Regions from separate parts of the Homo sapiens genome. Here region 1 is linked to region 2. Evidence: fine-mapped expression QTL. A gene starts in region 2. The other region holds a variant in brackets. All regions are shown on one strand. Distances are from middle to middle. Region 1 overlaps ZNF558 (zinc finger protein 558). Region 2 holds the start of ZNF558 (zinc finger protein 558).

What was found. PIP is the estimated chance that this variant, and not a neighbour inherited with it, causes the effect.
Region 1: its variant is fine-mapped to the expression of ZNF558 in whole blood (TOPMed, PIP above 0.99).

Annotation. Positions count from the first base shown.
Region 1 is chr19:8,798,490-8,815,522 of GRCh38, reverse strand. It overlaps ZNF558 (zinc finger protein 558), which reads left to right. Exons shown (of 10, transcript NM_144693.3): 8 at 2,301-2,396; 9 at 2,880-2,962; 10 at 3,460-9,353. The coding sequence ends at 4,242. Among named protein-coding and RNA genes, the nearest start is that of ZNF558, 25 kb to the left of the region's middle. The variant A/G (reference allele first, on the strand shown) is at 9,228.
Region 2 is chr19:8,825,399-8,841,561 of GRCh38, reverse strand. It overlaps ZNF558 (zinc finger protein 558), which reads left to right and starts at 9,258. Exons shown (of 10, transcript NM_144693.3): 1 at 9,258-9,353; 2 at 10,161-10,244. MBD3L1 (methyl-CpG binding domain protein 3 like 1) reads right to left here and starts at 9,185. Exons shown (of 3, transcript NM_001393532.1): 1 at 9,040-9,185; 2 at 563-647. RefSeq lists silencers at 8,449-8,708, 9,209-9,478.

The DNA of each region.
Region 1 (17,033 bases), 26 kb after region 2:
ACATGAGCCATTGCACCTGGCATCTCTCTTTTTTCTGCTCCTCAGACTGGATAATATCGATTGTCCTATCTTCATGGTCACCAATTTTGTCTTCTGCCTGCTCAGATATGTTCTGAATGTTTCATTTCAGCTATTGTACTTTTCAACTCAAATTTTTTTATTTGCCTTCCTAAAGTTTCTGTCTCTTAATGTTTTCCATTTTTTGTATTTTTTTGATATGCCATAGTTGTACCTATTTTGCTGTTTTTCATTTGATGAAAATTTGTATTCATGGTTTCCTTTAGTTCTTTATACATATTTCTTTTACATCTTTTAGCAGATTTTAAATAGTTGACTTATTTTACTTGTCTAGTTAAGTCCAGTGTTTGAACTTCTGAAGGGACAATTTCTACCAGCTTCATTTTTCTTGTAATGGGCCCAACGTTTGTTTCCTTGCCTCCCTCATAATTATTTTGTTGAAACTAGGGTATTTGGAATATTATAATATAGCAATTTGGGAATCAGACTTTTCCCCATCTCCAGAGTTTGTTTTACTTGTTGTAGTTGGTATTGTATCTATAGAACATACAACAGTTCTAAAGTTAGTTGTGAAATAGAACTATTGTGTGTTCTAAAGTTGTAGAATATCATATATTGTAAACTCCTGTTAGAATATACAATAGTTCTATTTCAGAACTAACTTTGTAATGTCTGTATTTGTCATGTGTGGCCACCGAAGTCTCTTTTCTGATAGCGTAATGGTCATATAGTGATTTGAAGGCCTGGAACAAAAAAGGAAAAAACTTCTAGTCTCTTTACGTGGGCTCTGTGTGTACATAGGGACATGCCTTTAATACTTAGGTAGGCATTTAACTGTGCCTTGACCTTCATTTCTGGCTTGTGCAGAGCCTGAAGGTCACCAAAAGATGAGGGTTTTGTGCCTTCTCAGGTATTTTCTGGGCATGCTCCCAGCCCTGAGTATGTGCTTGGAATTACAGGTTCTTAAGAATATGAGGAAGATTTTCAAAGTCCTACTCCCCAAACATCTTTTTCCCCATTTTTCCTTTCAGGCTTTTCGGTTAGTCTTTTGTTTGCTTCTACTGTTTTCTCTTGCCTCAAGCAGTACTGACTAATACATTTACCTTTACATCTGTCGATCACGTGTGTTCCAGGTAACCAGCTCAGTCCTGAAAGAATTTGGAGTTAGATAAATAAAGACAACCCTTTGAGCCAGTCCTTCAGGGAACCACCAGACAGGTCAGGAAGAGCAACCACAGAGTAAGGTCTGTTCTGCTCCCTGCAAGTACTAGGAATGCAGGCTGTTGTCTTCAAGGTTGTAGAAAAAGCAGGGGAAAGAGGTCCATTTAAAGTATCATAAAGCTCTCTTACCCAGATTCAGCTGGGTTTTCTGAGAAGGCATTCTCCTGATTGCTGTGGACTTTTGATACATTTCAAGAATTCCGATAAAGTTGATTCGGACCGCTTTTGCCAGTTTACTCACTGTTTTTGTGGAGGGATGAACGTTTGGAATTCCGTCCTCCACCACTGTCACTGTCATCACTTCTTTCAAGTTTTCTTGAGCACCTCTGTGTTCCTAGGTCTGTGCAGTGACTTGGGAGTACAGTGATGAATGGGACCATATGGTCCCACCCTCATGGGCAGTCTCTAATTCCTGCCTTATGAACTGAAGATCTATTTCTTGTCCTGACTTTATATTCTTCATGGTTAAAAGTTTTGGGGCCTCTGAAGTGTGCATTTGAACTCAGGCATGGCCTTCTGGGGCTGTTTATGCCCTATCACCCTGAATATCTAGTTGAATATGCTTGTTGCATTTTTGTTCAGTGAGAGTTACCATATGCACTAGAATTAAGGTATAATTGGCAGGGCGTGGTGGCTCATGCCTGTAATCCCAGCACTTTGGGAGGCCAAGGTGGGTGGATCACGAGGCCAGGAGATCAAGAGATCAAGACCTGCCTGGCCAATATGGTGAAACCCCGTCTCTACTAAAAATACAAAAATTAGCCGGGCGTGGTTGTGTGCACCTGTAGTCCCAACTACTTGGGAGGCTGAGGCAGGAGAATCGCTTGAACCTGGAAGGCAGAGGTTGCAGTGAGCCGAGATCATGCCACTGCACTTCAACCCGGGCGACAGAGCAAGACTCCATCTCAAAATAAATAAAAAAAAGAAAAGAATTAAGGCATAATTTATTTCACTGCTCCTAAAGTCACACTTTTCCATCTTCATAAATGTTGGCTTTCTTTCATGGACTTGGTTGTCCCCAGCACTGTTACCTATATCATGTGTATTGTTTCCATAAATAGGGTGTCGTGTTAATAAACCCAGTCTGATATCCCAGTTGGAACAAGACAAGAAGGTGGTGACAGAGGAAAGAGGAATTCTACCAAGCACCTGTCCAGGTGAGCACCAGGTGGATATGAGCCCTTGTGAGGAATAGCTCTGGCCAGTGACTTGGGGGTTGGGAGTATTACATTAGTTCATGTCAATCAGGGAACTTTGTAAAATACCCTGTTCCTGACAAACATGCACGAGAACATTTGGTGTGAGCTTCCTCATGTCCTTTCTTTTCTCTCTAACTCCCTTGTCATCATCTCATACTTCACTTTGGGCTCAGGGAAGAAACAAAGATGCAACTCTTTTGAAAATTTCAGTCAAGTTCCTTTCCACTTTGCATTCCTGATCACTCCTCTTGTCAATCTGTGATCAATCTCAATTTGTCTAGAATCCTTTTTTAAAATTAATACCTAAAATTTTCATAACCAAATCCTCTTTGTTGCAAACATCCTCAAAAACCCTGATCCCTCAGAATCTGCCTTTACTCATGTGTACACTTTTCCATTTCTTTTCTCCATCAACCTAAATTTCTTTTCAATTTGTTTCAGATTTGGAGACTCTACTTAAAGCCAAATGGTTAACTCCTAAGAAGAATGTTTTCAGAAAAGAACAGTCTAAAGGTGTAAAAACGGTAAGACTAACATGGGTGATTTCTGGTTTTCTACAGTAGGAGAATGCCTTAAGTTTAGAAAGGGCACAAAATAACCAGGAGAGGCATTAAAGGAAAGTGTCATTTATAATTGAGAATGCTGTGTTCCTGGAGAGACACTGTGAAAATTATAAATATTTAGAGAAGTGTGAGTTAGCTCCAAACTTATTTCTTCACGGAGAGTTCCCACAAGTAAATATTTCCTATCTGTGGCTCAGATATTGACTGTTGGAACAAAACTTCATCCACACGTTATCAGAAAATGTTTTGTGCATCTGATAAGGACTTGTGGCAAAGCATCTATGTTTTTTAACTTTCTTAGAGCTAAAACTGGGCAGAAATCACATACAACCACTGAAAGTAGCCAAAATATCAATTATAATAATGTAACAGAATTCCTGGGAGAGAAGATTCCTAGGAGAACATTAAGTATTTCAAATATTATAAATTATAGTTATCATTCATCTCTTAATCCACAGGAAAGAAGTCATCGTGGAGTGAAACTCAATGAATGTAATCAGTGTTTTAAAGTCTTCAGCACGAAATCTAACCTAACTCAGCACAAGAGAATTCATACTGGAGAAAAACCCTATGACTGTAGTCAATGTGGGAAGTCCTTCAGTAGCAGATCTTACCTTACTATTCATAAGAGAATCCATAATGGGGAGAAACCCTATGAATGCAATCACTGTGGGAAAGCATTTAGTGATCCCTCATCCCTTAGACTGCATTTGAGAATTCACACTGGAGAAAAACCCTATGAATGTAACCAGTGTTTTCACGTTTTCCGCACCAGTTGTAACCTCAAAAGCCACAAGAGGATTCACACGGGGGAGAATCACCATGAATGTAATCAGTGTGGAAAAGCTTTCAGCACAAGGTCCTCTCTCACTGGGCACAATAGCATTCATACAGGGGAGAAACCTTATGAATGTCACGATTGTGGGAAAACCTTCAGGAAGAGCTCCTATCTGACACAGCACGTAAGAACTCATACTGGAGAAAAACCCTATGAATGTAACGAGTGTGGGAAATCCTTCAGCAGTAGCTTTTCTCTTACTGTGCACAAGAGAATACATACCGGAGAGAAACCCTACGAGTGCAGTGACTGTGGAAAAGCCTTTAATAATCTCTCAGCTGTGAAGAAACACTTAAGAACTCACACTGGAGAAAAACCCTATGAATGTAATCATTGTGGGAAATCCTTCACAAGTAACTCCTATCTTTCTGTGCACAAGAGAATACATAATAGATGGATATGAATTACTGCAGGAACTTCTGGAGGAAAGCACTCATTGATCTTTCATCCCTAAGATAGTTTGAGAGAGCTCACACTGGATATATAAGTTATTTGTTGCAGCATAACAAATGATCCCCGCAAATTTTGTGGCTTCAAACACGAAATGTTTATTCTCTAACAATTTCTACAGATCAGGAATTCAAGAACAGCTTATCTCTGTAGTTACACTGCAGGATCTCTCATGCCTTTACTTACAATCAAGATGTCAGCCAAAGCTATAGTCATCTAACATCTTTACTGATGAACAGTCCACTTCCAAGATGACTTATTCACATGCCTGGAAAGTTGATGTTGGTTGTTGTCAGGGGACCTTCAGTCATTACCATGTAGGCCTCTTTACAAGGCCCAGCTCCTTGACAATTTGGCAATAAGTTCTCGCCAAGGTTAGTGATCCAAGAGAGGACCAATACAGAGGCCAAAATGGCTTTTATGACCTATCCTCAGGAGGACTGCTAAGCTTTCACTTATTTCCTATTGTGTTGGTCTCACAACACACCAATCCTGATACAATGTGAGAGACTGCAGAAGGTATGAATACCAGGAAACAGATAACTCAGAAGCATCTGGGAAATTTGCCATGGAATTAATGAAGAAAAGCCCTCAGCACATCATCCTTCTACTCTAATCAATATGAAATAGCATTCAGTAACTCCTATTAATTCACTCTGAAGAGAAACCTTTTGAGGACAATCTGTATGGTAAAGCTCTCAGCTCGAATTCTCACCTTCATGGGCCCAGAAGATTATGTACTGAGAGAATCCTGAAGAATGGAACAGCTGTAGAAAGCCTTCAGTGCTATCAGCAGGGATTCATGTGACAGCTCACACTAAGGGAGAAAACCTGTGAAGGTCTCAGAAGGCTTCAGTGACAGTCATCCCTTAAGACGCACTGGAAATCACACAATGGAACAACACTCAGAAATGCGGAATACCCTACAGCAAAAGTGTTCACATTACTGAGCAAACTATAGTGTGGTATTCTGCAGTGACTATGGGAAAGCCTTGAATGTTCTATCGGTTTTTAAGGGACTTGAGAATTAATTCTGGAGAGAATGCCCCATTGAACATCATCAATATTGGAGAGCTTTCTGTTTTTCTACATTTGTTAGGAAACTTGTGAGCATTCACACTACAGAGAAACTTGAAATATAAAGAAGAAGAGAAAGCCTTCAGTGATGCCTCTGTGTTAGGGAAAATATGGAACTTCTCCCTGGATGCAAAACCTATGAGTATATTAATATTGGAAAATTTTTCAGTGATTCTTCTCTTTCTTGTATATGAGAGAACTTATATGGAGAAACCCCTAGGAATGTAATCAGTGTTAGGATGCCTCAGCCTGAACTCTTCACTGAGTGGCCACAATTTTCACTGGGAACAAAAAGTATAATCACTGTTTTGAGTGTGGGATATCCTTTATCAGTGTCTCATCTGTAGATTGGACTGCTGGCTCATTAATTTTTTTAGTCTTTTTTTCTTTTAATATAAACATTTGTGTATAGCTGTTCCCTAAAATAAACATTAACATATTTCATAATTTTAATGCAATGTATTTATTATAATTAATTTGCTTGTTAAAGACATCCACACATTGCATATTCAAAAAGTTATTTCCAAATACCTTCTGAGTGATTCAGTTTATCATAATGGAAATTAGTATTTATAAACACATTTTTCTAATGTAGTGGTATTTTTGGCAGAGTACATGAGCTTTATGATACTGATTATTTTCTCTCTATCTTGGTATGCCAAATACTGTTGGTTTCTTTCCCAGTGTCCGTTCTCTTCAGTTTATTCGTTTAAAGAAACAAACATGTTGTTCAAGTTGTCTGTGAACAATATCGAAAGTTCTCAATCTTATAGTTTTTCCTGAAGCCCAGGCGGGTTTTTTCGCACTCCCCTGGCAATGAGAAGTAAGTCGAAGTCACTGTGTGGAACATCTCCTGGCTTGTTCTCCTCACATATTTTCCATTCACCTCACCCATTCTGTCTCTTGGAAAGTGGCCTCAAGGTCTAGAGTTTGAAGAGCTTCTTTTTGACCACAATGACAGAAACCAAAGTGCAGCCAAAAATCACAATGCTTTGGGCTCTCCAGGAGCCTCCGATTGGCTGCATCTGCTCTGGACTCCTTATTCTTATACTTCTTATGTGACTAAAAGAAACCCCTAGGCTGGGTGTGGTGGCTCACGCCTTTAATCCCAGCACTTTTGAGAGGCTGAGGTGGGTGGATCATGAGGTCAACAGATTGAGACCATCCTGGCCAACGTGGTGAAACCCTATCTCTACTAAAAGTATAAAGATTAGCTGGGTGTGGTGGTGCACACCTGTATTCCCAGCTACTCGGGAAACTGAGACAGGAGAATTGCCTGAACCTGGGAGGTAGAGGTTGCAGTGAGCCAAGATGGCGCCAGTGCACTCCAGCCTGGCAACAGAGCGAGACTCCATCTCAAAATAAACAAATAAATATTTTTAAAAAAAGAAACCCCTAACTGATTGAAGCCAACATGATCTGTTGTTTGTTTTTGAGGTGGTGTTCTGTTAACTTCCAGCAGGATGCAGAATCTAACTGGTAAACCTATAAATTGGTCAAGTTTTACCCATGTTGTTTCTTTGAAAACAATGTATATTCTCTAATATTTGGATATAGGGTATATGAACATTAATGCAACTTAATTGTATTTCCAAGTACAGTACGTATGTTCAGATTTCTTTTTCTAACCTTATTTAGTGATAGAGGTGTGGTAAACTCTTCCATTATGTTTATGTATTAACACTGTAATTTTGTCATTTTTATATATTTTGACATTATGTAACTAGATGCATACAGGATTAGGTATTCTGTATTCCTTTTTATGTGGAGATGATATTTTTACATAGCAAAGTATTGTAATGCATTAATAATAAATGGTCAAACATTTATTTATTTATTTATTTATTTTAGATGGAGTTTCACTCTTGTCATCAAGGGTGGAGTGCAATGGTGCGATCTCGGCTCACTGCAACCTTGGCCTCCCAGGTTCCAGCAATTCTCCTGCCTCAGCCTCCTGAGTAGCTGGGATTACAGGCACCTGCCACCACGCCCAGGTAATTTTTTTATATTTTTAGTAGAGATGGGGTTTCACCATGTTGGCCAGGCTAGTCTCGAACTCCTGATGGTCAGACATTTATATTGCACTTCCCATAGATCAGGCCCCCTTCTAAATGACATATAAGTATTAACTCAGTATGCATTATAAACTTAAGTATGTAATGTTATTATCCCCAGTTTACAGATGAGAAAACTGGTATGATACACTTAAGTTACTTGCCTGCATTCACTGACTGGTAAATGGTAGAGCCAAGATCTGAACCCAGACAGTCCATGCACTTAACCACTACCCTATTAACGGAGTATGTTCTGTGTGCCAGGCAAAGTTTTGCCATTGAAATACTTCACCTAATGGAGGAGGAACAGATTATAGAAAAATCAAGAAAATATGGTATTATAGAGTTATAGGAAAAAAAAGCATTTTAGGAGAGTTAAGGGGGGTTGGGAATAATAATTTTATATAACTAGGAAAAGAAAGCCTCTTGGTAAGGAGCATTTGAGCGGAGATCTCAACAAGTTGGGACAGTGAGTCATATGAATTTGTCTTGCAAGAGTAGTGTTGGCATGCAAAGGCCCACAACAAGGAGGCCAATACAGCTGGAGTGGAACAAAGGGGTGATGAGGGAGCAGTAAAAGATGATGTGGTCAGAGACATGGTAGATCCTGATCTTGTTGGGTTTTCTGAGACATTGTTAGGACTTTTCCTTATTTCAGTGAGTTGGCACATCAGTCAGGGTCCCAGCAGGAACTCAGGTTGACACCCACAGACTAGGACAATTCAAGTAGAGTTTTCATAAAGGGTCTACTCAGTCCTGTGGACAGGATCCAGGGAAACCACAAAAAGTTGTAAAGCACCCAGCAGCTTAGCAGGGCAGAGCTCTAACACCTCACAGCCTGAAGGGACGAAGGGAGGGAGCAACTGAATCTGGAGACGAGAGGAGAGGGCTGCATTCCAGGAGCTGAGAGAGGTCAGTCAGCGATAGCATCCAGCCCCAGGTCCTCCTGCAGGAAATAGCCAGGGTCAGACCTCACTCTCCTTCATCCATTGAGACAGGAAAATATCCCCATTTATGAATATATAAATCAATAGCAGATCCAGAGACAATTTGGGTATTGGAGTTAGCAGACAAAGACTTTAAAATAACCAAGAATAATATGTTAAGGGAAATGGAGGAAACATGGACAAACCATAGAAAATGAGAGACAAACTGCAAATCTACCAAACAACCAAAGAAGAAGGACACATTGCTTTCAAAGCAGCATCAGTAAGACTAATGATGACTTTTCAAAAGAAACTATGGAAGCAAGAAGACAATGAATGACATCTGACATATAAAGGGTTAAATGGGTTGGAGGAGGGGGAAATTGTCAATCAAAAGTTCTGTAACCTAAGAAAATATTCTTCAAAACTGAAGGCAACAATGTTTTCCAATGGGAGGGAATATTTTTTTTTTTTTTTTTGAGATGGAGTCTCACTCTGTCGCCATGCTGGAGTGCAGTGGCATGATCTCGGCTCACTGCAACCTCCTCCTCCTGGGTTCAAGTGATTCTCCTGCCTCAGCCTCCTGAGTAGCTGGGACTACAGGTGTGTGCTACCACGCCCAGCTAATTTTTGTATTTTTAGTGGAGACAGGGTTTCACCATGTTGGCCAGGATGGTCTCGATCCTTTGACCTCACATGATTTGCCCACCTCGGTCTCCCAAAGTGCTGGGATTACAGGCGTGAGCCACCACGCCCGGCCTGGGAGGGATTTTTTTAAGCTGAGAGAATTAACAGCATAACCGTATTTTCAGAAACACTGAAGAGATTTCTTCAGGCTTCAGGAAAATGATTCCATAGAGACATACATAATTCCAGGAATT[A/G]AGATCAACAGGAAACATAAGATGCAAGTAAATATAAATCAGTACTGACTGTATAAAACAACCCTGTATAGTTTTACAACTTTTATGTATATCTAAACTTTCCAAAATAAAATGCTTTTAAAAACACATTGCATTGATCTCCCCAAACTAGAGGTGGTGGAAAGCACTGCAGGAGATTTCTCCCCCAACACACACAAACACACAAGACTAGTGATTATGGAAGGCCCAACAAGTGGTGCGTATAGTCTGCATCCAACAATAGAGATGATAGAAGTCCTAGTAAGGGGTCATCAGGCCCCTCCAAAACTAGAGGCAACAAGACCTCAGTTAGCAGGTGTCATCCCCAAACACAAAAGATACTGAGAAAGCAAGACATCCATCCTCCCAAAACTAGAACTGATGGAAATTTCAATAAGCACCTCCAGTTATGTCTGATACTTGAAATGACAGCAATCCCACAAGTGACTTCCTCAGCTGCCCCTCAGCACTAAAGAATGAGGATCCCAAGCCCAGTGACCTACCTCATCTATACCAATAATAAGGAAGACCCAGAAAGTGACTCTAGTAACCCCCTCAACACTAGATAAAATAGGTTAAAAGAGACCCTTCCAAACCCACTGGACAGAGATAAGTGGACCCCCACAGAATAACAACCCATCTTCTTCCCAAACTAAGACAATGGGACCTCCATCCAGGTACACTTCCCTGACTCCCCAATATTTAAAAAATGGGAGTCAAAGGTAGTGATCCTCCAGGCCCTAAAAAACAGGAGCTCGTACCTCCAGCCTCTTAGTTACACCCCTCAACACAATGAGGATTCCATCAGATGAGAACTTCAAGTGACCCCCCTATATTCCTCTAACATTAGATGAAGGAAACCCAAAAAGGCAATTTCCAATCCCCTACATACTAAAGAAAGCTCCAAATTCCACAACACTCTCACTCAACACAAACCCTAGCTTGCCTCCCTTGTCTCCCCAAGAGCAGACACAAATATCCCCAGCAAGGATACCACAGCCTTCCCCCAATACAATCATGAGAATCTCAACAGGCAACCCGCCAGGTTCTACCTCTCATTCGATTATTACAAAATAAGAGTTGACAGAAGCATCAGGAAGCAACACTCTCAACATAAATGAGGAGAGCCCACAGTGTGAGTCCCTCAAGTCTTCCCTAACATAAGATGACTGCCCCTTCAGTGAGCCCTCTTTATTCCAAACACAAGAAACCAGCTGAGCCCTAGTAGGCAACTCTTCAGCTTGCTCTTGCAATGCAGATGTCTGTCCCCACCTGATAGCAGATACGTAGAGCCCCATCAAACCAAGTGTCTCCTTTCCCAGGGAATGTTAGAACATGGAAGACAACAGTAGTCCCAACATGCCAGCATATGCCCCCAAGCTCCCATAATACAGGAGGTGACAGGAGCCCAGGAAGCAAACCTTCCCCCAACATTTTCTGCACCCAGCAGACCGCTCTTATAGGCTGCATTCCCAGCTGACCCTCAGAGCATCAACTGCTCAGAAAGGCCCTGAGAGGAAAAGGAAGGGTGAAGCTGGGGGTGAGGCTGAGAAGAACAGAGAGGGGAGAAAGGGGAAAGGAAACCTTGCAACTTATCCCAAACACAGCCATAAAAATGCCAGAGGCCCCAGACAGCTACAATGAAACCAGGCTCTACAGCAGAAAAAAAAGATAACAGGGGGTGGGGATTTCTGGGCTGATGAGGTGGTCTGGAGGAAAGGTGGATGTGTTCGCTAGCCTTCAAGATGCTCACCAAGGATCCTTGCCACCTGAGATTCCTGTCCTGTGTAGCACCCCACACACACCCCAATATTTAATCAGATGACCCATATAATCAATACAGTGCTGCTGCTGAAGTGACCATGTGTGGCATCTCAGGCCAGGTCATAAGACACACTGAAGCTTCCTCGGTTTCTTCAATTGCTCCCTCCCTGGAGAAAGCCATCCACCATGCCATGAGGACACTCAAGCAGCGCCGTGGCAAAGGACCAACTTTCCAGCACCACATTGCTAGGCAGAAGATGAGCCACCTTGGAAAGAGATCTTCCAGCCCCAAATTTTGAACTCTAATTAATGATATGTATGTTAAAAATGTTTAGGGGAGAAATCTATTGCTGTCTGCAAACTACTTCAAAATGCAAAAAAAAAATAAAAATAAAGATGGGTTGATGAATGATACAGAGATCAATGTGGTCAGGCAAGTATAATAAAGTATCACTGATGGAATCTAGATGGTAGATTATATTAGTTTGGTAGGGCTACTATAAAATACCACAGACTTGCTGGTGAAAAGTAGAAATTTGGGCCAGGCCCAGTGGCTCACACCTGTAATCCAGCACTTTGGGAGGCCGAGGGTGGTGGATCATTTGAGGTCAGGAGTTCTAGACCAGCGTGGCCAACATAGCAAAACCCCGTCTTTACTAAAAATACAAAAATCGTGTGGGCATGGTGGTGCATGCCTGTAGTCCCACCTACTTGGGAGTCTGAGGCAAGAGAATCACTTGAACCTGGGAGGCAGAAGTTGCGGTAAGCCAAGATCGCACCATTGCACTCCAGCCTGGGCAACAGAGTGAGACTCCATTTCAAAGAAAATAAATAAATAAAAAGTAGAAATTTATTTTCCCACAGTCCTGGAGGCTGGAAGTCCAAGATCAAGGGGCTGGCAAGGTTGGTTTCTCCTGAGGTCTCTGCATGGCTTGCAGATGGCTACCCCCTTGCTGCCCCTTCTGTCTGTGCACCACAATGCTTCTTGGTCTATTATGTCCTAATTTCCTTATAAAAACACCAGCCAAACTGGATTAGGGCACACCCTAAAAGCCTCATTTTAACTTACTTAATTGCCTCTTTAAAAGCCTGATCTTGGCCGGGTACGGTGGTTCATGCCTGTAATCCCAGCACTTTGGGAGGCCAACGTGGGCGGATCATGAGGTCAAGAGATTGAGACCATCCTGGCCAACATGGTGAAACCCTGTCTGTACTAAAAATACAAAAATTACCTGGGGATGGTGGCACGTTCCTGTAGTCACAGCTACTCAGAGGCTAAGGCAGGAGATCGCTTGAACCTGGGAGGCGGAGGTTGCAGTGAGCTAAGATCGCACCACTGCACTCCAGCCTGGTGACAGAGTGAGACTCCATCTCAAAAAAAAAAAAAAAAAAAAAAAAAAAAAAAAAAAAGCCTGATCTTACACATAGAGTCCCATTCTGAGGTACTGGGGTTAGGGCTCCAGCATATTAATTTGGGGGGTGAGGGGATGGGGACAATTCAGTCTATAAGTGGATGCTCACTTGTAAAATTATTTCAAATTATCTCCCTGTTTGAAAATATTTAATAATAGGATGGGAACTGTAGCTCACACCTTAAGGCCAGTGCTTTGGGAGGCCAAGGCAGGAGGATCACTTGAGATCAGGAGTTCAAGACAAGCCTGGGCAACATAGTAAGACCCCATCTCTACCAAAAAAAAATTAGCTGGGCATGGTGGCATGTGCCTGTAGTTTCAGCTACTCAAAAAGCTGAGGCAGGAGATTGCTTGAGCCCAGGAAGTCAAGGCTGCATTGAGCTGTGATTTGTTCTGTGGAGCAAGATCCTGTCTCAAAAAAAAAAAAAAAAAAAAAAAAGACAGGTAACTGATCTGAAGGTGAAGCTTGGACCAGCAAAAAATGGACCAGAACAACCCAAATGCCCATCAATTTATAAATGAGTGTTTTTAATGTGATATATTCATACATTGTGTATTATTCAGCCACAGAGGTGGGAAGGATGTGTCTACATGAATGAAAACCTTGTGCTAAGGGAAAGACGCTACTCACAAAAGACCAACTATATGTAATTCCATTTCTATGAAATGTCAAAAATAGATAAATCTATACAGATGGAAAGTAGATTAGTGGTTGCTTAGGGGGAGTTGGACAGGGAAAATACAGGGATATGGTTCAAGTTCTATTCAGTTCCTTTTCGTAATTTCTATCTCTTTATTGATACTCTTGATGTTCTCTATATGTTGAGTGTAAGAGTTGAAGAAAGAAACAGGAAAAGCAGCTCAACAGTCAAAGACAGGTTTATTTTGGGAATAAACCTGAGAGGGGCTTCTGGCCAATTTAGGTCAGGAGTATTCTCTCTTACAGACTAAAACTATTTAAGAGTTTAGGGGCTGGGCACGGTGGCTCATGCCTGTAATCCCAGCACTTTGGGAGGCCGAGGCAGGTGAATCACGAGGTCAGGAGTTCGAGACTAGCCTGACCAACATGGTGAAACCCTGTCTCTACTAAAAATAGAAAAATTAGGAGGGAGGAGCCAAGATGGCCAAATAGGAACAGCTCCAGTCTACAGCTCCCAGAGTGAGCGACACAGAAGATGGGTGATTTCTGCATTTCCATCTGAGGTACTGGGTGCATCTCACTAGGGAGTGCCAGACAGTGGGCGCAGGACAGTGGGTGCAGTGCGCCGTGTGCGAGCTGAAGCAGGGCAAGGCATTGCCTCACTCGGGAAGTGCAAGGGGTCAGGGAGTTCCCTTTCCTGGTCAAGGAAAGGGTGACAGACAGCACCTGGAAAATTGGGTCACTCCCACCCAAATACTGCGCTTTTCCGATGGGCTTAGGAAACGGCACACCAGGAGATTGTATCCCGCACCTGGCTCGGAGGGTCCTATGCCCATGGAGTCTTGCTGATTGCTAGCACAGCAGTCTGAGATTAAACTGCAAGGCAGCAGCGAGGCTGGGGGAAGGGTGCCCGCATTGCTCAGGCTCACTTAGGTAAACAAAGCAGCCAGGAAGCTCGAACTGGGTGGAGCCCACCACAGCTCAAGTAGGCCTGCCTGCCTCTGTAGGCTCCACCTCTGGGGGCAGGGCACAGACAAACAAAAAGACAGCAGTAACCTCTGCAGACTTAAATGTCCCTGTCTGACAGCTCTGAAGGAGCAGTGGTTCTCCCAGCATGCAGCTGGAGATCTGAGAACAGGCAGACTGCCTCCTCAAGTGGGTCCCTGACCCCTGACCCCTGAGCAGCCTAACTGGGAGGCACCCCCCAGTAGGGGCAGACTGACACCTCACACGGCCGGGTACTTATCTGAGACAAAACTTCCAGAGGAACGATCAGACAGCAGCATTCGTGGTTCATGAAAATCCGCGGTTCTGCAGACACGGCTGCTGATACCCAGGCAAACAGGGTCTGGAGTGGACCTCGAGCAAACTCCAACAGACCTGCAGCTGAGGGTCCTGTCTGTTAGAAGGAAAACTAACAAACAGAAAGGACATCCACACCAAAAACCCATCTGCACATCACCATCATCAAAGACCAAAAGTAGATAAAACCACAAAGATGGGGAAAAAACAGAGCAGAAAAACTGAAACTCTAAAAAGCAGAGCGCCTCTCCTCCAAAGGAATGCAGTTCGTCACCAGCAACGGAACAAAGCTGGACGGAGAATGACTTTGACGAGTTGAGAGAAGAAGTCTTCAGACGATCAAACTACTCCGAGCTACAGGAGGAAATTCAAACCAAAGGCAAAGAAGTTGAAAACTTTGAAAAAAATTTAGACGAATGTATAACTAGAATAACCAATACAGAGAAGTGCTTAAAGGAGCTGATGGAGTTGAAAGCCAAGGCTCAAGAACTACGTGAAGAATGCAGAAGCCTCAGGAGCCGATGCAATCAACTGGAAGAAAGGGTAGCAGTGATGGAAGATGAAATGAATGAAATGAAGTGAGAAGGGAAGTTTAGAGAAAAAAGAATAAAAAGAAATGAACAAAGCCTCCAAGAAATATGGGACTATGTGAAAAGACCAAATCTGCATCTGATCAGTGTACCTGAAAGTGACAGGGAGAATGGAACCAAGTTGGAAAACACTCTGCAGGATATTATCCAGGAGAACTTCCCCAATCTAGCAAGGCAGGCCAACATTCAGATTCAGGAAATGCAGAGAATGCCACAAAGATATTCCTCAAGAAGAGCAACTCCAAGACACATAATTGTCAGATTGACCAAAGTTGAAATGAAGGAAAAAATGTTAAGGGCAGCCAGAGAGAAAGGTCGGGTTACTCACAAAGGGAAGCCCATCAGACTAACAGCGGATCTCTCAGCAGAAACTCTACAAGCCAGAAGAGAGTGGGGGCCAATATTCAACATTCTTAAAGAAAAGAATTTTCAACCCAGAATTTCATATCCAGCCAAACTAAACTTCATAAGTGAAGGAGAAATAAAATACTTTACAAGCAAGCAAATGCTGAGAGATTTTGTCACCACCAGGCCTGCCCTAAAAAAGTCCCTGAAGGAAGCACTAAACGTGGAAAGGAACAACTGGAACCAGCCCCTGCAAAATCATGCCAAAATGTAAAGACCATCAAGACTAGGAAGAAACTGCATCAACTAACGAGCAAAATAACCAGCTAACATCATAATGACAGGATCAAATTCACATATAACAATATTAACTTTAAATGTAAATGGACTAAATGCTCCAATTAAAAGACACAGACTGGCAAATTGGATAAAGAGTCAAGACCCATCAGTGTGCTGTATTCAGGAAACCCATCTCACGTGCAGAGACACACATAGGCTCAAAATAAAAGGATGGAGGAAGATCTACCAAGCAAATGGAAAACAAAAAAAGGCAGGGGTTGTAATCCTAGTCTCTGATAAAACAGACTTTAAACCAACAAAGATCGAAAGAGACAAAGAAGGCCATTACATAATGGTAAAGGGATCAATTCAACAAGAAGAGCTAACTATCCTAAATATATATGCCCCCAATACAGGAGCACCCAGATTCATAAAGCAAGTCCTGAGTGACCTACAAAAAGACTTAGACTCCCACACAATAATAATGGGAGACTTTAACACCCCACTGTCAACATTAGACAGATCAATGAGACAGAAAGTTAACAAGGATACCCAGGAATTGAACTCAGCTCTACACCAAGCAGACCTAATAGACATCTACAGAACTCTCCACCCCAAATCAACAGAATGTACATTTTTTTCAGCACCACACAACACCTATTCCAAAATTGACCACATAGTTGGAAGTAAAGCTCTCCTCAGCAAATGTAAAAGAACAGAAATTATAACAAACTGTCTCTCAGACCACAGTGCAATCAAACTAGAACTCAGGATTAAGAAACCCACTCAAAACTGCTCAACTACATGGAAACTGAACAACCTGCTCCTGAATGACTACTGGGTACATAATGAAATGAAGGCAGAAATAAAGATGTTCTTTGAAACCAATGAGAACAAAGACACAATATACCAGAATCTCTGGGACACATTCAAAGCAGTGTGTAGAGGGAAATTTATAGCACTAAATGCCCACAAGAGAAAGCAGGAAAGATCCAAAATGGACACCCTAACATCACAATTAAAAGAACTAGAAAAGCAAGAGCAAACACATTCAAAAGCTAGCAGAAGGCAAGAAATAACTAAAATCAGATCAGAACTGAAGGAAATAGAGACCAAAAAAACCCTTCAAAAAATTAGTGAATCCAGGAGCTGGTTTTTTGAAAGGATCAACAAAATTGATAGACCACTAGCAAGACTAATAAAGAAAAAAAGAGAGAAGAATCAAATAGACACAATAAAAAATGATAAAGGGGATATCACCACCGATCCCACAGAAATACAAACTACCATGAGAGAATACTACAAACACCTCTATGCAAATAAACTAGAAAATCTAGAAGAAATGGATAAATTCCTCGACACATACACTCTCCCAAGACTAAACCAGGAAGAAGTTGAATCTCTGAATAGACCAATAACAGGAGCTGAAACTGTGGCAATAATCAATAGCTTACCA
Region 2 (16,163 bases):
ATAAATCGGAAAACTTATTCACCCACTATAAATTTCTGATTTCCAGGTTTTTTAATTCAAATGCCCATACCATAGATACCTGTTCTTGATGAACATACCTTGAGGAGCAAGTATCTGTGATTTGGGTATTTGAATTACTCCGGACCTCCGTATCTTCACCTTCCTCTCTCTCCTCTGATTCCTAGCACTCTTGGATTCTGTGGTCTGCGACCTCAATATTTCCCTTAGAGGCCGGGCACGGTGGCTCCACGCCTGTAATCTCAGCACTTTGGGAGGCCGAGGTGGGTGGATCACTTGAGGCCAGGAGTTCAAGACCAGGCTGGCCAACATGGTGAAACCCCATCTCTACCAAAAAAAAAAAAAAAGAATTAGCTGGGTGTGGTGGCGCACACCTGTAGTCCCAGCTACTCGGAAGGCTGAGGTGGGAGAATCACTTGAACCCAGGAGGTGGAGGTTGCAGTGAGCAGAGATCACATCATTGCACTCCAGCCTGAGCAACAGAATGAGACCCTGTCTAAAAAAAAAAAAAAAAATTCATTTAGATTAATCCAAAATTCCTTACCACTTATCACACCTGCCTTGTAAAACTTCAAACTTGGAAGGTCCCTGTTCTCTGTGACGCCATGGCTACCACCGTCATATGATCACTGCTGAAAAAAGAATCACGTGACATGACGTCTTAGTGCCACTATAAATACAAAATATTCTCCATCAACTGGGAAGAATCCATCATGCGTAGAAACTTTATTTTCTGTGTATGCACTGTCATGTTTACTCCTTGATTTTCCCCAAAACCTGTTGCAAAATTTTCTCCAGCTTTCTTTTTTCCTCATAGATATTTAATTCTCCTTAACTTACCTGATGGTTCCCAAAGACGTTAGTTGCCAAATCTGCAAATATCCCTGATAAGCATTGAATGTTTCCAAATTTCCTTTAATTGTATTTAAAGAGATTTCCTGCCAGGCATGGTGGCTCACACATCTAATCCCAGCACTTTGGTAGGCTGAGGCGGGAGGGCCACTTGAACACAGGAGTTTGAGACCAGTCAGGGCAACGTAGGGGGACCCCCATCTCTACTAAAAATTAAAAAGTTAGCTGGGGGTGATGATACATGTCTGAGGTCCCAGCTGAGTGAGGGAGGCCGAGTGAAGAGGATAGCTTGAGCCCAGGAGGTCGAGGTTGCAGTGAGCGGCAATCAGGCCACTGTACTCTAGCCTTGGCAACAGAGCAAGACCTTGTCTCATAAATACATAAATATGTTTCCTTTATCCACCAAGAGTGATCTGAGCCTCATTCCTTCTTCCTTTTTGTTAATTTTATGCTTCCAATATTGCAATGTAACCTTTGTATCATCTGTTTTTGTTTTTTTTTTTTTTTTGAGACGGAGTCCCGCTCTATAGCCCAGACTGGAGTACAGTGGGATGATCTGGGCTCACTGCAACCTCCACTGCCCGGGTTCAAGCAATTATCTTGCCTCAGCCTCCCAAGTAGCTGGGATTACAGGCACATACCTCTATGTCCAGCTAATTTTTTGGTATTTTTAGTAGCGATGGGGTTTCGCCATGTTGGCCAGAGTGGCCTCGAACTCCTGACCTCATGATCTGCCCGCCTCAACCTCCCAAAGTGCTGGGATTACAGATGCCCCCATATCTTTAACTTCTGTTTTTCTACTGAATCCCTTCTTCGGCATTTAAACATGTTCAAGTTTCTCCGAGCTACACAGACACTCCTCTCCTAAACTTCCTGGGACCCCCTCCTTCACCACTACTGCCTATCCCTTCCCCTTAGCTATGAACCACTGAGAAAAGATCATCTACATCTATGTCTCCTATCTCCTCACCTCCAGCAACTCCTCAGGCCACCCCAAACTTCTGTTTTCCTTCACCGTTCTCAGCTGCTTCTGTTGCTAAGGCCACAATGACCCCTTTGTTGTTAGATCCCAAAGGAATTCTCATTATTCATCTGACATGACTCTTGAAGTGGAAAGCTTTGAAGTATGCTTGGAACAACCTGGACATGTGAATCTTACTTTACAGCTGTGAACCCTAGAAAATCTAAATATGGCCAGGCACGGTGGCTCACACCTGTAATCCCAGCACTTTGGGAGGCCGAGGCGGGCAGATCATGAGGTCAGGAGATTGAGACCATCCTAGCTAACACAGTGAAACCCCATCTCTACTAAAAATACAAAATATTAGCCATAATATTAATACAGGTGGGTGTGGTGGCACACACCTGTATCCCAGCTACTCAGGAGGCTGAGGCAGGAGAATGGCGTGAACCTGGGAGGCGGAGCTTGCAGTGAGCCGAGATGGCGCCACTGCACTCCAGCCTGGGCGACAGTGCGAGACTCTGTCTCAAAAAAAAAAAAAAAAAGAAAAGAAAAGAAAAAAAAGAAAATCTAAATACGGGGCAAGTACATCTGATAACATTCAACTCGCAAATTGAGATGTGCCATCAGTGGAAAGTACGAACTGGATTTCTGGAACTCATTACAAAAAACAAAAATCATTTAAAAGGTCTCATGTGGAGTCCTAATAAGATAAGTAACCAACAACAAGGAAAGGGCCCCTGGTTGGGGGAGAACAATTGTTCTGAGAGATGGCTAACTGCAAACAACCCACTGGCATGACATTCTGTTCCAAAAGACCTCGGTCTGCACATAGTCCCAGGAACACGACCTTATCTGCACACCTCACGTGCACATAGCCGCCTCCAGCACGACCCTATAAAATCCCCTCCAACCTCTGCCTCTTTGCAAATGGCCCCTTCTCTTCTGTGCTGCCTGTTGCATCCTTGCAACCTATCTTCATATCTTCTCTAATAAATCTGTCTTTCTTTACCTACGACTGTCTTGGGAAATTATTTTACCACCAACAATGCCAGCCCCAGCCAGTCGCACCTAAAACGTCTCAATAATTTTTACATTGATTGCATGCACACATGAGAATATGTTGGCCATCGCAGGTTAAAATAGACTTTTAGAATTCATTGTGTGTGGCATGCCATCTGTGGCTGAGGTGCTATATTGGTGCTTATCTAGGAGTTATCACCAGACAGCCTGTGTTCTGTGCATGCTTGGTTGTTTGCAGAGTTGCATAGCCTTCAAAACATTTACTATCTCAATATATCCATGTCCTCGGGAGAGGGTTAGGCAATATGCAGTTTGTTTCCATGGGACATCTCCATCCTTAGCAATTCCTTTGGGGATTATTTGACATCTGTCATTTCCACAGGTGGCCTTGCCCTGGAGGAAGGTGATAGTGGGGCTGCTGATCTTTTTTTTTTTTTTTTTTTTTTTTTTTTTTTGAGATGGAGTCTTGCTCTGTCGTCCAGGCTGGAGTGCAGTGCAGTGATGCGATCTCGGCTCACTGCAACCTCTGCCTCCTGGGTTCAAGCGATTCTCCTGCCTCAGCCTCCTGAGTAGCTGGGACTACAGGTGTGCACCACCACGCCCAGCTTATTTTTTGTATTTTTAGTAGAGACGGGGTTTCACCATGTTATCCAGGATGGTCTCAATCTCTTGATGTCATGATCCGCCCGCCTCGGCCTCCCAAAGTGCTGGGATTACAGGCGTGAGCCACCGTGCCTGGCCAGGGCTGCTGATCTTCTGGGTAGAATTTCAGCCTTGCTGTCTCCTGTGTATAAGGAACTCTGCCTGCTCCATCTTGGTCCCTTCCAGTTGTTTCACTTCAAGTTTCTTTACCTCCTTCTCTTCCTTACTAACCAAAATATGGAATGAAATATTTAGTAGCAATTATTTTATGCGTCATCTGGTTAGGTGGAAGCTACTAGTTGTTTTTACTCTAGCAGAATTAAGGTAGCCGGAAGTGACTATCAGAGTATAAAGTATCCTCAGATCTCAGGTACTCTGTGGGAAAGCAAGAACTTGTCTTGTCCATGAGGCCAGTGTGAAGGGTGAGGGTCTTTATCCCTGTCACAAGGCTTGAGGCAAAACTTTGCACTCTGCCTTCTGCCCTCCAGCCAGAGAAGTTTCTAGCCACCCCCATTCGAGGCAGAAAGGGTCCAGGCATTAAGTGGTTGTCGAGCCCTGGAATTTTATATTCCTAGACTTTGTGGGTTACAACATGGATACACACTGCCGACTTCATTCTGCAGCCAGCTTCTCACATCTAACAATATATCCCGATTGTAATTTAATATAACTAAATGTACATTGACATTGTTGTTTTAAGGCCCATGAATGTCATTTCATACGGCTACACCAGTACTTATTTTGCCATTGTTACTAATCTTCTGTCATATTAAATAGGAGGTAGATGATCAATCCTTTTTAACAAGGTTCAAACATTTCTCTGATTTAGATCACTGTAAAATTGCTGGGTTGATAAATATGCACATTCGTACAGCTTTGGGTATATGTTACCAAGTACCTGCTGAGAAACTGGTACTTATCAATGCTGCTAGCAGAGGGCGAGGTCATTCATTTCTTCATGTCTTGACAAACTGGCCATTTAAAATGTTTTGCATTACTTGAGAGGCACAAACATAATGCCATTATTTTAATTTATGCCTCTTTGCTAATTAGAGTATTGGGCAGTTGTATGTATTTGTAAAGGAGTGTGTGGTTCATAGCCTTTGTCTTTGATGATGTTTTTACTGGCTTGTTCATCTTTTGCTTATTTATCCAAAATATTCTTTATGTAATAATGATATGAGCCCACATGTCATAGATTTTTACAATTATTTATCCCCAGTTTGTTTTGCCATTTAATAATGTGATGGTGTGGAAAATTAAGATACACTTAAGCTGGATACGATGGGGTCATGCCTAAAATCCCAGCACTTTGGGCAGCCAAGGCAAAGGGATTGCTTGCGCTCAGGAGTTCGAGACTAGCCTCTGTGGTGTGGCGAGTCCCTGTCTCTATAAAAAATACAAAAACTAGCTGGGCGTGGTGGTGCACGCCTGCAGTCCCAGCTACTCGGGAAGCTGAGGAGGGAGAATGACTTGAGCCCAGGAGGTCGAGGCTGCAATGAGCCATGTTTGCACCACTGCACTCCAGCCTGGGTGACAAAGCAAGATCCTGTCTCCAAAAAAAAAGAAAAAAGAAGAAAGAAGGAGGAGGAGAGGGGGGGAGGAGGAGGAAAAGGAAGAGAAGAAGGAGGAGGAGGAAAGAAGAAAGAAGAAGGAGGAGGACAAGGAGGAGGAGGAAGGGGAGGAGTAAGGAAGAAGGAAGAAAGGAGGAGGAGGAAGAGGAAGAAGAGAAGAACTCACATTTTTGTAGTATTTTACTTTTTCCACTTTTCTTCTATTATTTTGAGGAAGAAGCACTCATATTTATGTAGTATTTTATTTTTCCACTTTTATTCTCTTATTATGCCTAACTGAAGAATTTATGTGTATAATTCTACATTTTTTAAATAAAAACTTTATTGAGCTACCATAATATTCAACCTTTTAAAGTGTACAGTTTTTACACTTTTGTGTAAAATGGTTTTTAGTACATTCACACAGTTGCGCAATCGTCACCACTATCTAATCTTATTTTCATCTAAAATGAAATCCATACCATTACCCACTTCCCCTCATTTCCCTTTTCCCCAACATTTGCCACTAATCTATTGTCTCTTTGGATTTTCTTATTCTGGAAATTTTATTTAAATTGAATTATACAAAATGTGGGTTTTTTATGAGTGGCTTCTTTTACTTACCGTAATGTTTTCAAGGTTCATCCATGGAATATGTATTCTGTTTAATGGATGAATAATAATCCGTTGTGTGGATATACCACATTTTATTTATCCATTCATCAGTTGACTGATATTTGGGACATACAAAATTTTGGGCTATTATGTATAATGCTGCTATGAACATTCATGTACAAGCTGTCATGTGAACACATGTTTTCATTTCTCTTGGGCATATACTGGAAATAAAATTGCTGGGTCACGTGGCAACTCTATGACTTTTTGAGGAACTGCCAAACTATTTTGCAAAGTGGGTGCACCATTTTACAATCCTGACAGCAATGTATAAGAATTCCAATTTCTCCTTGTCTTTGCCAATCTTTGTTATTGGCTATCTTTTTAATTTTAATTATCCCAATGGGTGTGAAGTAGTATTTTATTGAAGTTTTGATATTAACTTCCCTAATGATTAATGGGGCCGAGCATCTTTTCATGTATATATTTGCCATTTGTGTATCTTCTTTGTAGAAATGACGATTCGAACTCTTTGTTCATTTTTCAGGCTGGGTGCAGTGGCTCACACCTGTAATCCCAGCACTTAGGGAGGCCAAGGTGGGCAGATCACTTGAGGTCAGGAGTTCAAGACCAGCCTGGCCAACATGGCAAAACCCTCTCTCTGCTAAAAATACAAAAATTAGCCAGGCGTGGTGGTGAACGCCTGTGGTCCCAGCTACTTGGGAGGCTGAGGCAGGAGAATCGCTTGAATCCAGGAGGCAGAGGATGCAGTGAGCCAAAATGGTGCCACAGCACTCCAGCCTAGGTGACAGAAGGAGACTCCACCTCAAAAAGAAAAAAAAAAAAAAACTCTTTGTTCACTTTTAATTGGGTATCTTTTTATTGCTGAGTCGCAAGCCTTTATATATTTTGAATACAAGTCATGTATCAGATAAATCATTTGTAAATGTCTTCACCCAGTCCATGTTTGTCTTTTTTCTTGATGGTGTCCTTTGAAGCATCAATGTTTTTTAATGTTAAGTCCAATTTATATATTTTTTCTTTCGCCACCTGTTTTTGATGTCATATCTAAGAAACAATTGCCTAACCCAAGATCACAAAGTTTGACACCTATGTTTTCTTCCAAGAAGTTTATAGTTTTAGCTCTTACCTTTAGGTCTATGATCTATTTTGAGCTCACTTTTGTACATGGTGTGAAGTAGAGGTCCAATTTCATTCTCTGTTTTTTGTTTGTTTCTTGGTTGGTTGGTTTTTTTTTTGTTTTTTTTTGGTTTTGGTTTGTTTTTTTTTTTTGATGGAGTCTCGCTCTGTTCTCAGGCTGGAGTGCAGTGGGGTGATCTCGGCTCACTGCAATCTCCACCTCCTGGGTTCAAACGATTCTTCTGCCTCAGTCTCCCGAGTAGCTGGGACTATAGGCGCCCGCCACCACGCCCAGCTAATTTTGGTATTTTTAGTAGAGACGGGGTTTCACCATGTTAGCCAGGATGGTCTCGATATCTTGACCTCGTGATCTGCCTGCCTCAGCCTCCCAAAGTGCTGGGGTTACAGGCGTGAGCCACCACGCCCAGCCCAATTTCATTCTTTTGTATATTGGCATCTAGTTGTCCCAGCACAATTTGTTGAAGAGAACAGTCTTTCCACAGTGAACTTTCCTAGTATATTGAATTTTGAACTTGTTCATTTTTGCTTAAACTTCCTTCAGCCACCTGAAAATGGATATTTTTGGGAAGCAGAGATCTAACTATTTTTTTCTGAAAGGACGGGTGCATGAAACAATATCATTCATTGAAAGTATTTCTTCCTGGCTGATTTTAAATGTTACCACTCTCTTACATAAAATTTTTTCCCTTTGCACTTACCAGTATCTTTTTTTGTTTATGGTTTTTGGTTTTTGTTTTGTTTTGTTTTTTGAGATGGAGTCTTGCTCGTCACCCGGGCTGGAGTGCACCGGCTGCAATCTCGGCTCACTTCAACCTCCACCTCCCGAGTTCAAGCTATTCTCCTGCCTCAGCCTCCCAAGTACCTGGGATTACAAGGCATCCGCCACCACGCCCGGCTAATTTTGTATTTTTAGTAGAGACGGGGTTTCACCATGTTGGCAGGCTGGTCTCGAACTCCTGACCTCAGGTGATCTGCCTGCCTCGGCCTCCCAAAGTGTTGGGATTACAAGCGTAAGCCACCAGGTCCAACCAGCACTTAGTGGTATCTAACGCACCAACCCACCATGTATTCTATTTATCACATTCACTGTCCATTTCTCCTGCCCAACTCACAACTAAAATGCACGTTCTCTGAGGGCAAGGACGTTTACCTATTTTGTTCAGTCTATATCCATGGTGTATAAAACAGAGACTTGTTGGGGGGGAGGTAATAGCATTTATTCCATGAATATGACTACGGCATACACACATACACACACATACATGTCCACACTATATCTGGAAAGATAGAGGAGAAAATTATTTTTGCCTCTGAGCAAAAGAACTGAAAGACCGTGGTGGGAGAATATTTGACTGACTTTGTACCATTCTTAAGTTTTCCTATATGTGTATCTATGACCCAGTCCTCTCCTGCTCCCCTAAACTCTTAGTGTTAAATCACTATGTTCTGCCTTGGGAAAGCAAGTTATAGACAAATGTGCATACATAATCTGATCCTATTGGGTTGTATGAACATGGGGCAGTAACTGTATCAACAATCTAGGGATCCAAGGAAGGCCCTACCCCTGAATCTGATCTCCCACAATCCTGGCTCCTGGGCCTATCCCAACCCACCCACATCATACACCCTTTTATTCATACCCAGATCCCTGCCCCTGGAACTGGTCTCCACCCACTGCCCCCTCCCCAGGCCTGGTGCAGCCCACAGTCCCGCCCCCAGAACTGGTCTCCGCCCACAGTCAGCCCCGCCCCCAGGCTTGCTGCCACCCCATAGCTCCGCCCCTAGAACTGCTCTCTGCCAATCACCACTGCCCTCCAAGACCGGTACACCCACAGCCTAGTCCCCGCCCTCCGCCCGGCCCGGAGCTTATCTCCGCCCACAGCCAGCCCCAACCTCCAGGGCTGTCACAACCACAGCCTGGTTCCCGCTCAGCCCCGCCCCGGAAATGGAGGTCTCCACCCCTGTAACTGGTCTCTGCTCAGTCATCCCCGCTCTAGAAGCCTTATACCATCCGCCCCGAGAACTGGGCCCCACCCACAGCCCCGACCCTGGAACTGGTCTCTGCCCAATCAGCCTCGCCCTCCAGGCCTGGTACGGCCTCAGCCGGTTCCCCGCCTTCAGCCCCGCCCCGGAACTGATCTCCGCCCACAACCAGCCCCGCCCCCAGGCCTCGTGCGGCTCACAGCCTGGCCCCGCCCCCAGGGCCAACCTTACCCCCGCTACTGCCCCAGGCCAGGGCCCAACTTTGTGCCCACTAAGCAAACTAGAACACCTCTGCCCAAGGCTGGGGTTCGCGGCCGCCGCTCCCGCCCGCCGCGCCTGTCGCCTAAGCGCCGAACCCCCAACACGCTCGACTCTGCGAGGCTGCCCGCGCGAGCCGGAAGGGGACGTGCAGCGCACCTCTCCCCAGACCGGAAGCGGAAGCGCGGGGCGGTACCGTGGGAGGGGCCGCGCGTGGGGCAGCGGGGAGCGAGTCCCTCCGTCCCCGCGAGTCGGCGCTTTTGGCCCCGCGGGAGGGGCCGGGCTCGGTGAGCGACTGGCGGGGGCTCGGGTCCGAGTCCAGGGGGCGACGTGGGCCGCGGACACCGCCAGCCACGGGCCCTGCGTCCCTCCAGGGAGCCGTGTTTCGGTTCATGAGGCCTCGGGCTGTGAGCTTAGGTCAGCACGAAGCTGCTGCTTGCTCCTGGGTCGGGGCCCCGCGCCGCTGTTGCCTCCTCAGGGAACCCCAGTCGCCCTCACCCGGGGCGATTCCGCACCCCAGGGGACTTTTGGCTGTAGCTGGAGACGACTGTGGTTTTCACAAATTGTGGGGAGGGGAGGCTGCTACTGTCACCTAGAGGGTGGAGGCCGGGGAAGAGGGACGCTGCTTGCTCTTAAAGATCCTACGTTGTACAGGACAGTCCCCCACAACAAAGAATTATCAGTAGTGCCAGGTTGGGAAACCCTGCTCTAGGGCCTTAAAAAAAAAATCTCTGCAGTTCTGAATAAACTACATAAATTGTTAAAAATTCAGTTTAGTCACTTAATAGGGCCTCTAAGTGACAAGATATTTTTAAAGCCTGTGGAGTCACCATAGAATCTCTCTCCAGCGTAGTAAGTTGAGCAAGTCAAATGCACACAGCGTTAAGCTGCTTTCTCCCCTCTTACGGAGCAGATGGCCAGATGGGAATCAGGTAAAGCCAGTCATGGCCCACAGGCTGGGCCCTTATTACACATTTAATCATTGAGTACCCAAAAAAAGTGAATGGGATGGTGTTTCCGGCAGCCGTATCCAACAACTGTACAACCTATACAAAGCCTCGAAAGAAATCTTTGTGTCTTTTTTTTTTTTTCAGATGAGAAAAGCATCATTCAAGCTCAGATTCGTGTTGAAGCCTGCCACAAGGTCCACCTGTTGTTGTGGGTTTTTGGGTGACCAGGTGAGTACAGTGTGGAACCTACAACAAGGTTTCAGCAGGCTCTGCTGTGTAGAAGAACTCCTCGTGGGCTTTTCCTGTGCTGGGGTTGTAACCACATTGAAGTCACTAAGAGTGAAGGTATCTTAAGGAAAGTTCAAGGTAAAAAGACAGAGGTGTTTATGGTTACATGTGTGTAAATAAGTAAATACAGTTACATGCAAATAAGTATCCACAAAACAAACATACAAATAACGTAAAGATGTGTAACTGTAGCTAAAGACAGATTTTCTGGTATGCCGTAATGCTAAAAGTTTCTGAATTTTATATAAGTATAGAAAATATTTACATGTATATGTAGTGTTACAAGTCTTCCCACTAACAACTAGCAGGACTACTTAGCAACATTTTTCAGGCCTGTTTGATTTGACTTTTTTTTTTTTTCTTGAGACCAAGTCTCACTCTGTTGGCCAGGTTGGAGTGCAGTGGCGCGATCTTGGCTCATGTCAACCTCCACCTCCCAGACTCAAGCAAATCTCCTGCCTCAGTTTCCTGAGTAGCTGGGACTACAGGCAAGTGCCACCACGCCCAGCTAATTTTGTTTGTATTTTTAGTAGAGACAGGTTTTTGCCATGTTGGCCAGGCTGGTCTTTAACTCCTGACCTCAAGTGGTCCGCCCACCTCAGCCTCCCAAAGTGCTGGGATTACAGGCAAGAGCCACCGCACCCAGCTGTTGATTTGATTTCTAAAGGCATATTGGCCCTCCACCAAACTTCAAAATATAAGGGCATTTGTAAAAAGGATGATTTATTAGTAACAAATTTAAAATTAAATTGACCGGCGACCAGATGTGTTTTGAGTAATGGGATTTTTTTTTTCCTAATGAGATTTGAAAACATTTGGAAGAATATTAAGCAACAACTTATAGATTGAAGGGTAGGGAACTGGTTTCCAAAAAGATTGTCCTCTGCACCTTGCCTCCTGTATTAGTCCTTTTTCACACTGCTATAAAGAACTACCTGAGAGTTTTCACACTGCTATAAATAACTCCCTGAGACTGAGTGACTTACAAAGGAAAGAAGTTTAATTGACTCAGTTCTGCATGGCGGGGGAGGCCTCAGGAAACTTACGATCATGGCAGAAAGCAAAGGGAAAGCAAGGCACGTCTTACATGGCAGCAGGAGAGAGAGAGAAGACATAAACGCCAAACTTCTAAACCATCAGATCTTGTGGGAACTTACTATCAGGAGAACAGCAAGGGGGAAGTCCGCCCCCATGATTCAGTCACCTCCTACCAGGACCCTCCTCTGACACATAGGGATTATTACAACTCGAGATGAGATTTGGGTGGGGGGACACAGAGCCAACGATATCACCTCCTAATAGGAATTAACTTTGTTTCTTAAAACTTCTCTGAAATAACAGTATGGTGATTCATATTGCAGAGAATCATGTTAAGTAATCTAGTATTAAATTGTGGGGTTTCTACTAATTGTGTGTGTGTTCACCTTTTCCATTCTAGCTTTCCTACAGCATTCTTGAAGGAATGTTTACTTATCATGCAATAGATATTATTTGAGTGCACAGTTAATGGTGACCAACCATCCTCATTTTTTCAGGACCAAGGGGTTTGCTAGGGCACAGGGCATCCAGTGTTCAAACCGGGACAATCCTTGGCAAACCAGGTCGCCTCCATGAGTCAGGTCCTAGGTCAGATGCACAGGGACCCTGGAGGACCTGAAATGGCCCCTGTCCTACATAAAGTTTACCTTCTAACAGGGAAGATAAATTTTAAACCATGAATGACAGGAGTGATGTGGGAGCTTGGCACTAGTGAACTTGATCAGAGGGAACAGGGAAGCTTTCTTGGGAAGGATATTTAGCTTGAGAGCTTAAGTTGTTACAGAACCAAACTGGGGTCTGCTCACCTGGTGGTGCAGTGAAACCAGATGTCTATATTGAGGGTTGCTACGATAGATAGAAAGGCTTTTATTGCACAGCACTAAGCAAGGAGGACCAGACATTAAATGTTCAAATCCTGGCCTCCCCAGTGGCTTTTAGGCAAGGAATTTTTTTTTTTTTGAGATGGAGTCTCACTCTGTTACCCAGGCTGGAGTACTGTGTTGCAATCTCAGCTCACTGCAACCCCCGGCCTCCCGGGTTCAAGCAGTTCTGCCGCAGCCTCCTGAGTAGCTGGGATTACAGGCGCCTACCACCATGCCCGGTTAATTTTTGTATTTTCAGTAGAGACGGGGTTTCACCATGTTGGCCCGGCTGGTCTTAATCTCCTGACTTCGTGATCCACCCGCCTCAGCCTCCCAAAGTGCTGAGATGATACAGGCATGAGCCACCACACCCGGCCTTTTTTTTTTTTTTAATGAGACAGAATCTCACTTGGTCACCCAGGCTGGAGTGCAATGGCACGATCTCAGCTCACTGCAACGTCTGCCTCCCAGGTTCAAGTGATTTTCCTGCCTCAGCCTCCCCAGTCCCTAGGATTACAGGCACATACCACCACACCTGGCAAATTTTTTGTATTTTGAGTAGAGACAGAGTTTCACCATGTTAGCCAGGTTGGCCTCAAACTCCTGACCTCAGGTGATCCGCCTGCCTAGGCCTCCCAAAGTGCTGGGATTACAGACATGAGCCACCGTGCCCGGCTAGGCAAGGATTTCTGAAGGCAATGGTAAGTTACAGAAAAGCAGAAGCTACAGGCAAAATCATAAAGCAATACATGGAGGTTACACACTGGTTTAGACTTAAAAGGGCAAGGATGTCTTGAAGCAGGAGCTTGTCATAGGTAGATTCAAAGATTTTTCTGATTTGTAATTGGTTAAAGAAAAGAAGCTTTGTTTAAAAATTTAGAGTCAGTAGGAAAATGTTAACTGGCTGGGAGAAGTGACTTTCTCCAAGCCCCTCAAGAAGAAACTTAGCACAAAGAACGCTGAAGCTCAGCCTTCATGTCCCGCTTATCTGGGGTCTCTGAGCCAGCAGCTCCATTTGGTGGGGTCCTCAGTGGGAGTCCCAGCCTCTGAAAGGCAACTCAGGGACGCATGTTAAGATGTTATCTTTAGTTTCCATGGGGAAAGCGAACATCTCTGGAGCCTTAACTTCTTTGGCTGTTGTTTTAGGTTACTATTACCTTCCTGTTTAACAAGTTCCATATTTACTTTTGGGGCTAGCTGGATGCTCGGAATTTCCCTTAAAGGAACTTCAGGATTTTCCTTTATTTTCCCACTTGGGGTTCACAGGCCCCTGAAAAAGGGAATTGCTGCTCCATCTCCAAGTTGGGGTCAGATGTAGCTAGTCATAGGGCTCGACTAGAGTGAGGGGACAGGGTTATGTCCAAGAGAGCACTGCCGTCGAAGAAGCTGTGTAAGGAAAGGCCCTGCAGCAGGAGAGAGGCTGCCACGCTCCCTGCACTGGGAACACAGGGATGGCTGAAGCCGAGACAAGAACAGGGAAAGAAGCTGGGCGCAGTGGCTCACACCTGTAATCCCAGCACTTTAGGAGACCAAGGTGGGCTGATCACCTGATGTCAGAAGTTCAAGACCAGCCTGGCCAACATGGTGAAACCCCGTCTCTACTAAAAATACGAAAATTAGCTGGGTGTGGTGGTGCACACCTGTAGTCCCAGCTGCTCGGGAGGCTGAGACAAGAGAATTGCTTGAACCTGGGAGGCTGAGGTTGCAGTGAGCAGAGATTGCACCACTGCATTCAGCCTGGGTGTAAGAGTGAGACTCCTCAAAAAAAAAAAAAAAAAAAAAAAAGAATAGGGAAAGAAGTGTGACCAAGACCAAGATCAAGAGGGAGGCAGAACCATACTAGGCCTCACTTCAGACTCTGTTCTCAGGCCAGTGGGAAGACACTAAAGAGTTGTGGGCCAGAGGGTGATGCAATTTGCATGTAGTGTAAGCATGCAGATAACAAGGACTTCAGGATTCAGAAGGAAGACATTTAAGAGGCAAAAGAGGGGGTGTTTGGAGGTAGTTTAGGAATCAGATGATTGCTCCCAAAAAAAATAAAATTTATTTTCTCAGCCATACTAGTCACATTTCAAGTATTAGAGCAGAATTATAGAACATTTCCATCATCACCAGAAGTTGTGTTGGGCAGCTGACATAGAGTGGCCCATCTGCTGTGACCATCCTCCAGCACTGTATCCAGGGCAGGGCAGGTGTCACAGGATCTGTAAACTGAAGAGACCCCTCCTGTCCTAGTGGGAAATTTCTGCTTCCAGACAGCCTTGAATAGGGACTTGGGGCCTGAAAATGTCCCAGGTACCTTCTCTACTTGTTTTTTTCTTGGAGGCCCAGTGAGCTGGCTGGAGGCCAACCCCCCCTCACTCCCCAGCTCAGTGACTGGAACTACTGTGTGCCTACCTGCACATTAGGTCTGTTACGGGGAAAAAGGAGATACTTCCCCCTGTAGAGGGTAGGGAAGTTCTGCAGCAGTTGCCTGGGTCTGCTGAACTCACCCAAAGGGAAGGTGTGATGTGAAAGGCATGTTAGTTTCCTATTGATGCTATAACAAACTACCACAAATTCAGGGACTTAAAACAACACACATTTATCCTCTTGCCTTGCTGGAGGTCAGAAATCCTCAATAAGCTGGAAGGCCTGCATTCCCTCTAGAGCAGGAGTCCCCAGCCCCTGGGCCACGGACCAGTGCTTATAAACAGGGCTGCACAGCAAGATGTGAGTGGCAGGTGAGCGAAGCTTCATCTGTATTTACAGCCACTCCTCATTGCTCGCATTACCACCTGAGCTCCACCTCCTGGCCGATCAGTGGCAGCATTCGATTCTCATAGGAGCCCAAACCCTATTGTGAACTTTGCATGTGAGGGATCTGGATTGCACACTCCTTAGGAGAATCTAATTCCTGATGATCTGTTGCTGTCTCCCATCACCCCCAGATGGGACCATCTAGTTGCAGGAAAACAAGCTCAGGGCTCCCACTGACTCTATATTATGGTGAGTCGTATAATTATTTCATTATATATTACTGTGTAATATAATAGAAATAAAGTGCAGAATAAATGTAATGTGCTTATAAAACATCATCCTGAAACCATTCCCTGCCCAGCCCCACTGCCGCCCCGTGCTCCATGGAAAAATTGTCTTCCACGAAACCAGTCCCTGGTACCAGAAAGGTTGGGGACCACTGCTCTAGAGGCTCTAGGGGAGAACCCATTTCCTGCGTTTTTCATCTTGTAGAGGCCACCAGCCTTCCCTGACTGTGGCTTGTTCCTCCATCATCAACACCAGCAGGGCAGCATCTTCCAGTCTCTCTGTATGTTATCTCCTCCCTGCTACACACACGCTCCCTTCTTCTCTCATCTCATCCCATCCTTCTTTGAACTGACCCTCCTGTTTCCCTTTTATAAGGACCCCTGTAATCACAGTGGGCCCACCCAGCATCATCCCCCATGTCAGGATCCTTGCCTTCCTCACAGCTGCAGAATCCCTTTTGCCATGTAAGGGAGTAGATCCAGAGGTTCTGGGGATTAGAACACAGACCCCTTTCTTGGGAGAGCAGGAAGTTAATCATCTGTCTACCACAGAGGCCCAAGAGCCAAAGACTCCCTCCAACTTGATTTTTTGACGGAACCCGAACTCACCCTGAATGTCCAGTGCCCCCATCCCTGCCCATTCACACCCTTCACTCCTTTTATCTTTTGGGTTCATGTCATGGAGGTCACACATGGAAACCTCCAGAAGCTGGCTTTATGGAGTTACGTTTTATTCTATAAATCTGGAGAAAGGAGGCTTTCTCGTCTTATAAAAAGGACACATGACATTGCTTTGTACCTTGATTTTTTTTTCACTTAAATTTATTGGAGATAATCTCTCTGAATACCTAGAAATCTTTTCAGGGGTTCTTTGTTTTGGTTTTGGTTTGGGGTTTTTTTTTCCTGGCTACATGTTTCTTTGTTATTTATTA